Linked DNA regions of Homo sapiens. Each later gene encodes a partner of the first gene's protein in a complex. Each region holds a gene or a part of one and is shown on either strand. Other genes may lie near its edges.

Region 1 (3,745 bases):
ATTAAAAGTGGCAGAGGAGCCAGGTGCTGTGGCTCACGCCTGTAGTTCCAGCACTTTGGGAGGCCAAGGAGGGTAGATCAGGAGTCAGGGTGGTCAGGAGTTCAAGACCAGCCTGGCCAACATGGTCAAACCCCGTCTCTACTAAAAATACAAAAATTAGCCGAGCCTGGTGGTGCATGCCTGTAATCCCAGCTACTCGGGAGGCTGAGGGATGAGACTCGCTTGAACCCAGGAGGCAGAGGCTGCAGTGAGCCGAGATTTTGCCACTGCACTGTAGCCTAGGAGACAGAGCAAAACTCTTGTCTCAAAAAGAAGAAAGAATTTAATAGACAGGAGGCCACCCATGCCACGTGGGAGACAGAGTTATTACTCAAATCAATCTCTTGGAGAATTCAGGGACTAGTGTTTTTCAAAGATAGTTTGGGGAAGGGATGGAGTGGCTAAGCAATGGGTTCTTGCTGCTTATTGGTTGGGGATGCAGTCATAGGGGTATGGGAAATTGTCCTCAAGCAGCTCGACAACTTCTGTGTGGGAACCCAGAAGCGGTTAGAGGTTCAGGTGGAACCATTGGTAGTCAGACATGCAAAATATCTGAAAAGATATCTCAAAACGCCAATCTTAGGGTCTACAATAGTGATATTATCTGGAAGAGTAATGGAAAAGTTGCATACCTTGTGACCTCTGGGATAATGACTGGCAACGGTTTATGTCTACACCTTAGCAGAATTCAGCCTCCTTTATCCGTCTACCCTGGTGGTCTCTTACTAGCTTTACAAAGGCGGTTGGCTTTTGGGGAAGGGTTATTATCATTTAAACTATAAACTAAATGTCTCCCAAAGTTACATTGACAGGCCCAAGCACAGGAATAATTAAGGGCAGCTTGAAGGCTAAAAGCAAGATAGGGGTTGGCTAGATCAGATCTCTCCCACTGCCATAATTTTCTCACTGTTATAATTTTCGCAAAGGCGGGTTCCAAGATAACCCTTAAAGAATGGGGTGGGTTGAGGGAAGGGCCTCTCAGGCCGAGTGAACAGCAAATGCAGAGGCCTGGCCTGAGGAACAACAGGTTCAGCGCGCCAGCGGTTAGGCAGGGGGACACACTAGGACCAGTGACCAGATGCCCAGTCCACATGACCTTGTTTGCCATGTGGCAAAGTAAAACAGAGGTTCCTCTTCAAAAACTTTCCTCCCCGTCTAATTAGGAATAAATAGTAACTTCTCTTAAAAGCAAAATTTATTCAAAGATCTGTGCTAACATTCTTAAATATCTGCTAGCCATAATAAAAAAAAATGTACTTTATGTTCTTAGCTCCCACAATTTAGCCTAAATATTTGCCCTGGCATGCTTTTACTAGTCCAAGCAAGCATTAGGTCATAGCCTGTTCCTCTTCCTTATTTAAAAGTGTTTTCATCTTTCTCAGCATTCCACAAGTTACTTCCTCCTTCCTTTGTTCTCCTCTACCTTTGCCTCTTTTAAAAAGTTCTAAGTTGCTAGCCAATCGGGACAAATACAAAATGTGAGGTCCGGTCCAGCCAATAAAAACCAGCCACAGCAGTAAGGTAAACACGTCAGGTTATAAATGACCCTGTCTCCTTTTGTTCAGTGTACTCTCCTGGCAAAACTGCTGGCGAGTGTACCCTTTCTGCAGAAAGTAAAAATGGCCTTATTCAGTAAGTTAAATTTATGTTGCTATTTCTTTACGACACCGGAAAACAAACATTTCAAACACCATGCTGAGAACTCAGTCCTTGTTTTGGGGAGGGATGCACTTGGAAGATTCGAGCTAAGGTACAATCCTCCCTAGGTATCCGCGGGTCATTGTTTTCAGGACCCCCACAGATACCAACATCCGCCATGCTCAAGCCCCTTACATTATGTGGGGGTGCACGGTGGGTCCTTCCCATCCGCAGGTTCGGCATCCGTGGATGGGGAGTGGATACAGAGGGCGGACTATACAGCTTGAAAGGCTTCCCTGGAAGCAATATGTAGAGTGGATTGTGGAGGAGCAAGAACAGAAGCGGGGAGGCTTGTCCAGAGCATACAGGGGAAGGATGTACGGCCAAGGGAGGAATCCCAGACGACCGCGATACGTGACATATTTATGTTTGCACGAAAATAAAGTTTGGAAGAAAAGTGTTGGGGGAACAAGGGATTCATTTTCCCGGGGTAGTTGGAATGCAATGGGACGCCTCAGGCCGCTGGGACAGGCTGGCCTCCGCGCGGGGGCGCCCGAGCAGCCGAGCCGCCGGGCCTTCCGGCTGCCCCGCCGGAAGTGCTCTCCTGACCCGCCGCTGTGCAGCGCAGCGCACCGCGGGAAGATGGCGTTGGAGGTCGGCGATATGGAAGATGGGCAGCTTTCCGACTCGGATTCCGACATGACGGTCGCACCCAGCGACAGGCCGCTGCAATTGCCAGTGAGTGTGAAAGGAGGGTGGGTGATCGTGGCTGGGCGCGCGGAGCCTGGGCCCCGGGGAGCGCGCAGGCAGCGGTGAGGGTGAGGGGTGGGAGCTAGGAGCCCGGGCCAGAGCGAGGAGCCCAGGCTGTCGGGTCAGTGGCCGCAGAAGGGGCGAGCAGACGTCCCCCAGGCGGGCTCACGGAGCCCGGGCTGCGGGGGCCGAGGGGCGAGGGGCGACGGCGGCAGCGGCAGCGGCTGGCCGTGCGAACCCCGAACTGGCTGCTCCCTGCGAGGCGGGGCGCGCGAGCCCTGGCGCCTCCTGGAGGCCGGCTTGCGGCGGCCTCTTAGACGTCTCACCTCCGCCTACCGCTCTTTCTTTTCTAAACTTGGGGCTTCCCCACTCCATCGCCGCTAGGTAACCATAAAGGGGCAGATTTTGCCAAATATGTAGCATCTAGGGACATCAGCCTGAAACAGCCTGTGATGCTCATTTTCTCCCTGAGCCGAAGGGAGACTGAGGCCCAGGAATGAAGTTTATCGCTCACTCAAAGATCTGGTTTTCCATGTTTCCACCGAACCTAGCTTTGTCATGCGGTACCATGGCACTAGGCTTTTGCATTAGCCTCTCTGATTTTGTTTGTTGTTTTGAGGTGGTCTCACGCTGTTGCCCAGGCTGGAGTGCAGTGGCGCGATCTCGGCTCACTGCAACCTCCGCCTCCCGGGTTCAAGCGATTCTCCTGCCTCAGCCTCCCGAGTAGCTGGGATTACATGCGCCCGCTGCCACGCCCGGTTAATTTTTGTATTTTTGGTAGACGCGGGGTTTCACCATGTTGCCCAGGCTGGTCTCGAACTCCTGACCTCAAGTGATCGGCCTGCCTCGGCCTCCAAAAGTGCTGAGATTACAGGTGTGAACCACGGCGCCCGGCCACATCCAGCTAATTTTGTATTTTTAGTTGAGACGAGATTTCTCCATGTTGGTCAGGCTGGTCTCGAACTCCCAACCTCAGGTGATCCGCCCGCCTCGGCCTCCCAAAGTGTTGGGATTACAGGCGTGAGCCACCTCGCCCGGCCTAATTTTTGTATTTTTAGTAGAGACGGGGGTTCTCCATGTTGGCCAGGCTGGTCTTGAACTTCCGACCTCAAGTGATCCACCCGCCTCGGCCTCCCAAAGTGCTGGGACTACAGGCGCGAGCCACCGCGCCCGGCCCAGCTTCCCTGCTTTCTAAACGGGAATTTGTCTTGACTGCCTTGGTAGGTAGCAACCTCTTTGAGAGGGCGTTGGTGCCAGGCTGCCTGTGTTCAGATCCTGGGGCCACCGATGTGTGACCTACAGCAGGTTTATTTAGCCT
Region 2 (3,745 bases), on another chromosome or scaffold:
TTACACAAGAAACCTCGTGTTAGAAATCAAAGCACGCAGCATAGTTATTTAATTTATACCTGTGTAGTGAAGAGAGCCCCGGACTGGATTCGCTCTTGCTGGTGTTTGGGAACTGACAGCTGTCCCTCCATCTTAGTTATGCTCAGTCTCTAGACCCTTAGGTGTCAGATAGAAAGCTGGACTAGAATATCCTCTCAAGCCATTCCTTCGTAGAAATCTGGTGTTTCACTATTAAAACTAAATGCATGCGATTCTGCCTCCACCTCAACTGCCACAACACTCAAGGAGAGACAAACGTTAGTAGATAAAATTTACTCAATTTAAAATGTCTGTTATGGGTTTTTTTCTTACATTGACAGCATCTGCTAACGTTTACCGCCTCTTAAGCGTTGGCAAATGATAAAACATCATTGTTGCTGATGTGTATTACCTCATTTAACCTTCACAAAAACCAGAAGATATAAATATCATTACTTCTGTATTACAGACTAAAGTTTAAGGAGATTTCATAACCTGGACAAGATCACCAAGTAAATGGTAGGGTCTGGCTTTGAACCTAAACCCTCTGGTTCCAAAGTCTCATCTCTTAACCACTACTATACACTCTCTTCAAAAAACAATACACTAAAATGTTAACAATAGAATTACTCTAAGTTTTACTTTTTTGGTGTGTGGATTTGTGTTTTTGACCGATTGTAAGGCTTATGTGTAATATAAGCATCTTTTTTTTGTTGTTGTTAAAACTAGAATTATTCCATCTTTATGAAGGCAACACTGATCTCCACGAGCACAATCATCCAAACGGAGATGGGAACCCCTGTTCTAACTCTCTCAGAGGCCTGAAGTTAGTTTTCTAGCACTCTCTCTCACACAAGGGAAATGCGCTTACGGCCAGTTCAAAATCTGCAGTAACCTGTGTCTGTTTATTAGGGACCTCTTGGGCGCAGGTAAGACAATATTCTTTCCCTGCAGCTTGAAAGAAGTGAAATCAACGGATAACCACTACCGGAACAGAGTTCAGACTGCAACTCATGAGATCTCTCAGTCCTTTCCTTCAGTGAATTCTTCCGAGCCCTTTTCAGGTGCAGCTTTGAAGGTTAAAACGAGACACTAGGACCAGTGGGTCCCTAAGAGGCGGCAGCACAGACACAGGTGTGCTTCCCTGCTCCGTGGTTTTACGGACGAAATTCTGAAGCATCCTTAGAGACCAAGGGTCTACCCATGGGGTTCACCAGGCCTTCTTTCCCGAGGATCGGCCCTTGACTCAAAGAACTGGGGCGGGGGAGAAGTCGCTTTCTAGAAGCCGCCCGACCACACCGCCACCATATTCTCCTCTTTCCCTCCGCGGCTCCCCGCACGTTCCCGGGGAGAAGAGCTTCCAGTCTCTTCCGTGGACACCCAAAGACGCCGAGCCTCGGCTCCCAACCGGGAGCGGCCTCCGTGGCCGGGCCGCAGGCACTCACCGTCGTTCTCGTCGCTGTGCCGCCGCCGCGACATGCTGCCCTCCGGTGCGCCGCGGAACCGAGAGGCCAGGCGGTAAGCGCTGCAGGAACTGTCTGGCCGCTGGCCGACGCAAGGACAGCTGCAAGGCGCGCGGATGGGCCGGCACGCAGGCGCACTAGCTCGCCACGGCCCCGGAAGCGCAGGAGAGGCCGCCGGGTGGGGCTAGGCGCTGCGACAGCCGGCGTGAGGAAGCTCAGTGGGCTACGAACGTCTGGCACACATGCAACCGCCCCCTCGGGCTGCCTCCGCCTGCCGGCTACTTCTTTCTCCCGCCTTCCGCTCTATGTCCTTCCGGGGCCACGCAGAAAGTGCCGCCGCTTTGGCCACTCAGAGCCCCCGGGCCGCGGTCGTCGTACGCCTGAAGGCGGGTCGTGCCGGCGGCCGCTCTAGTCTCCGCCTCCGCTCAGGCCGGTCCTCCGGGGCTTCTCAATGGTTTCCCGGTGGCCTCTCAATGGTTTTCCCGGCGGCCCTTGCGCCGACGCCAGGAGACTTCCGGAGCTTGGTGACGTCACGAGCGAGCTTTTCTACCCAAATACGCGGCGGGGGAATAGGCTCGAGGGCGGTGAGCAGTGACAATTGCTAGGCGGAGACAGTGCAGGGAAGAGAGACCTTAGAAAGGATCAGGACTGGCGGGTATGTGCTCATCTACTCCCACTTTCCGGCTTTTGCCGCCTTGGGAAAAGTGGGAGGAGAGGTTGGGCCAAGCTCGGCATGCGGGGTGGGGCCTGGGCGGGAGGCGGTGCCGCACGTGCCGCCCCTTGGTATGGAAAGGCCGGCCCTGACGCGAGCGTGCGGCTCCGGGCTTGCCGGCTGGCCGTCATTTTCCTTAAGTTGTTTGCTTAGGAAGGAACAAATGATTGTTTTAGTAATCTGTTTTCAAGGGTTATTGGGTACCTATATGCCTGTGTGTGAGCGTCCCCTCCCCTGATGTCTTTATGAGCACCATACTGGCTTATCTGCTTTGTCCATGGCCATCTGAAATTTCACTCTCCCGGCCTAATTCTCCTTCGGTCTTACCCATTTCAGTAAATGACGTCATCCGTCGGCCGCTTAATCCAAAAATTTAGAGTCTTTCTTAGCTCTTTTCCCTCTTTTTACATAACAATTATCTGTAAACCCTGCCTGCTCTGCTTTCAACACAAATCCAGAATCAGATCGTGTTACTGCTTTGTTTAAAAGTCTCCTATGACGGCCGGGCGGGGTAGCTAACGCTTGTAATCCTAACACTTATGGGAGGCCGACGCGGGCGGATCCGCTTGAGCCTAGGAGTTCAAGACCCACCTGGGCAACAAGGCGAACACCGTCTTTACAGGAAAAAAAAAAAAATTAGCTGAGCCTAGTGTTTGGCGCCTGTAGTCCCAGTTACTCGAGGGGAGGGTTGGGGGCCGAGGTGGGAGGATCCCTTGAGCCCAGGAGGTCGAGAATGCAGTGAGCGGTGATCGCACACTGCACTCCAGCCTGGGCAACAAAGTGAGACCGTGTCAAAAAAAAAAAGTCTCCTACGACTTTCCATTGCACACTCCATGCCATGGCCTGTGGGGTTCTACTTCTCCTCACTGTACTCCAACCACTCTTTCTGTTCTTACAATAAGTCAAGCTTGTTCTTATTTTAGGAACTTATACTATTTCCTTTACCTGAAGGTCTCTGGTTCTAAATCTGCGTGGCTGGCTCTTGGTCACTTAGGTCTCAGCTCAAATGTCAGGTCCTTAGTGAGGCCTTCTTTGGTTACCCAATCACTGTTTTATTTCATTCAACGAATATTATATTTATTAGCATTTAGCACCTCCTAGGTGCCAGGCAGAGTTCTGAATGCTGAGGATGTAGAGGTGAACAAAGGAAAACCCCTGCTCTCTTGGCGCTGATATATTCTAACGACCCATTCAGGAATACCCACAAATAGTGCCATCATAGGTAGTGAGCAACGGGAGAGTGGTAGATGAGATCAGAGAGGTAGGGGGAAGGTGCTCTGTGAGGACTTTGGACATTATCCAAGTGAATTGAGAAGTCATTGGAGTATGATTTTTTTTTTTTGAGACAGGGTCTCGCTCTGTTGCCCAGGCTGGAGTGCAGTGGCACGGTCTTGGCTCGTTGTAACCTCTGCCTTTTAGGTTCAGGCAATTCTTGTGCCTTAGCCACCCAAGTAGCGGCAATTACAGACATGCGCCACCACACCAGGCTAATTTGTATATTTTTAGTAGAGATGGGGTTTCGCCATGTTGGCCAGGCTGGTCTTGAACTCCT

What was found.
Region 2: the proteins of PHAX (region 1) and NCBP1 are in contact, whole or in part, in a cryo-EM structure (PDB 8PNT), measured with the Homo sapiens proteins. Residues at the interface, in NP_115553.2 of Homo sapiens: Ile114, Asn115, Asn116, Ile117, Trp118, Gly119, Val121, Leu122, Glu124, Gln125; in NP_002477.1 of Homo sapiens: Cys380, Lys381, Pro384, Pro388, Gln389, Leu391, Ala392, Thr395, Phe417, His420, Leu421, Asn423, Phe424, Gln425, Arg427, Trp428, Ser429, Asp432.

What each region holds. Positions count from the first base shown.
Region 1 is NC_000005.10:126,598,644-126,602,388, forward strand, and holds the start of PHAX (phosphorylated adapter RNA export protein), read left to right. Parts: upstream 1-2,303; 5' UTR 2,304-2,319; coding exon 2,320-2,415; intron 2,416-3,745. UniProt on the Homo sapiens protein: A phosphoprotein adapter involved in the XPO1-mediated U snRNA export from the nucleus.
Region 2 is NC_000009.12:97,631,634-97,635,378, reverse strand, and holds the start of NCBP1 (nuclear cap-binding protein subunit 1), read right to left. Parts: upstream 1,559-3,745; 5' UTR 1,498-1,558; coding exon 1,464-1,497; intron 1-1,463. UniProt on the Homo sapiens protein: Component of the cap-binding complex (CBC), which binds cotranscriptionally to the 5'-cap of pre-mRNAs and is involved in various processes such as pre-mRNA splicing, translation regulation, nonsense-mediated mRNA decay, RNA-mediated gene silencing (RNAi) by microRNAs (miRNAs) and mRNA export.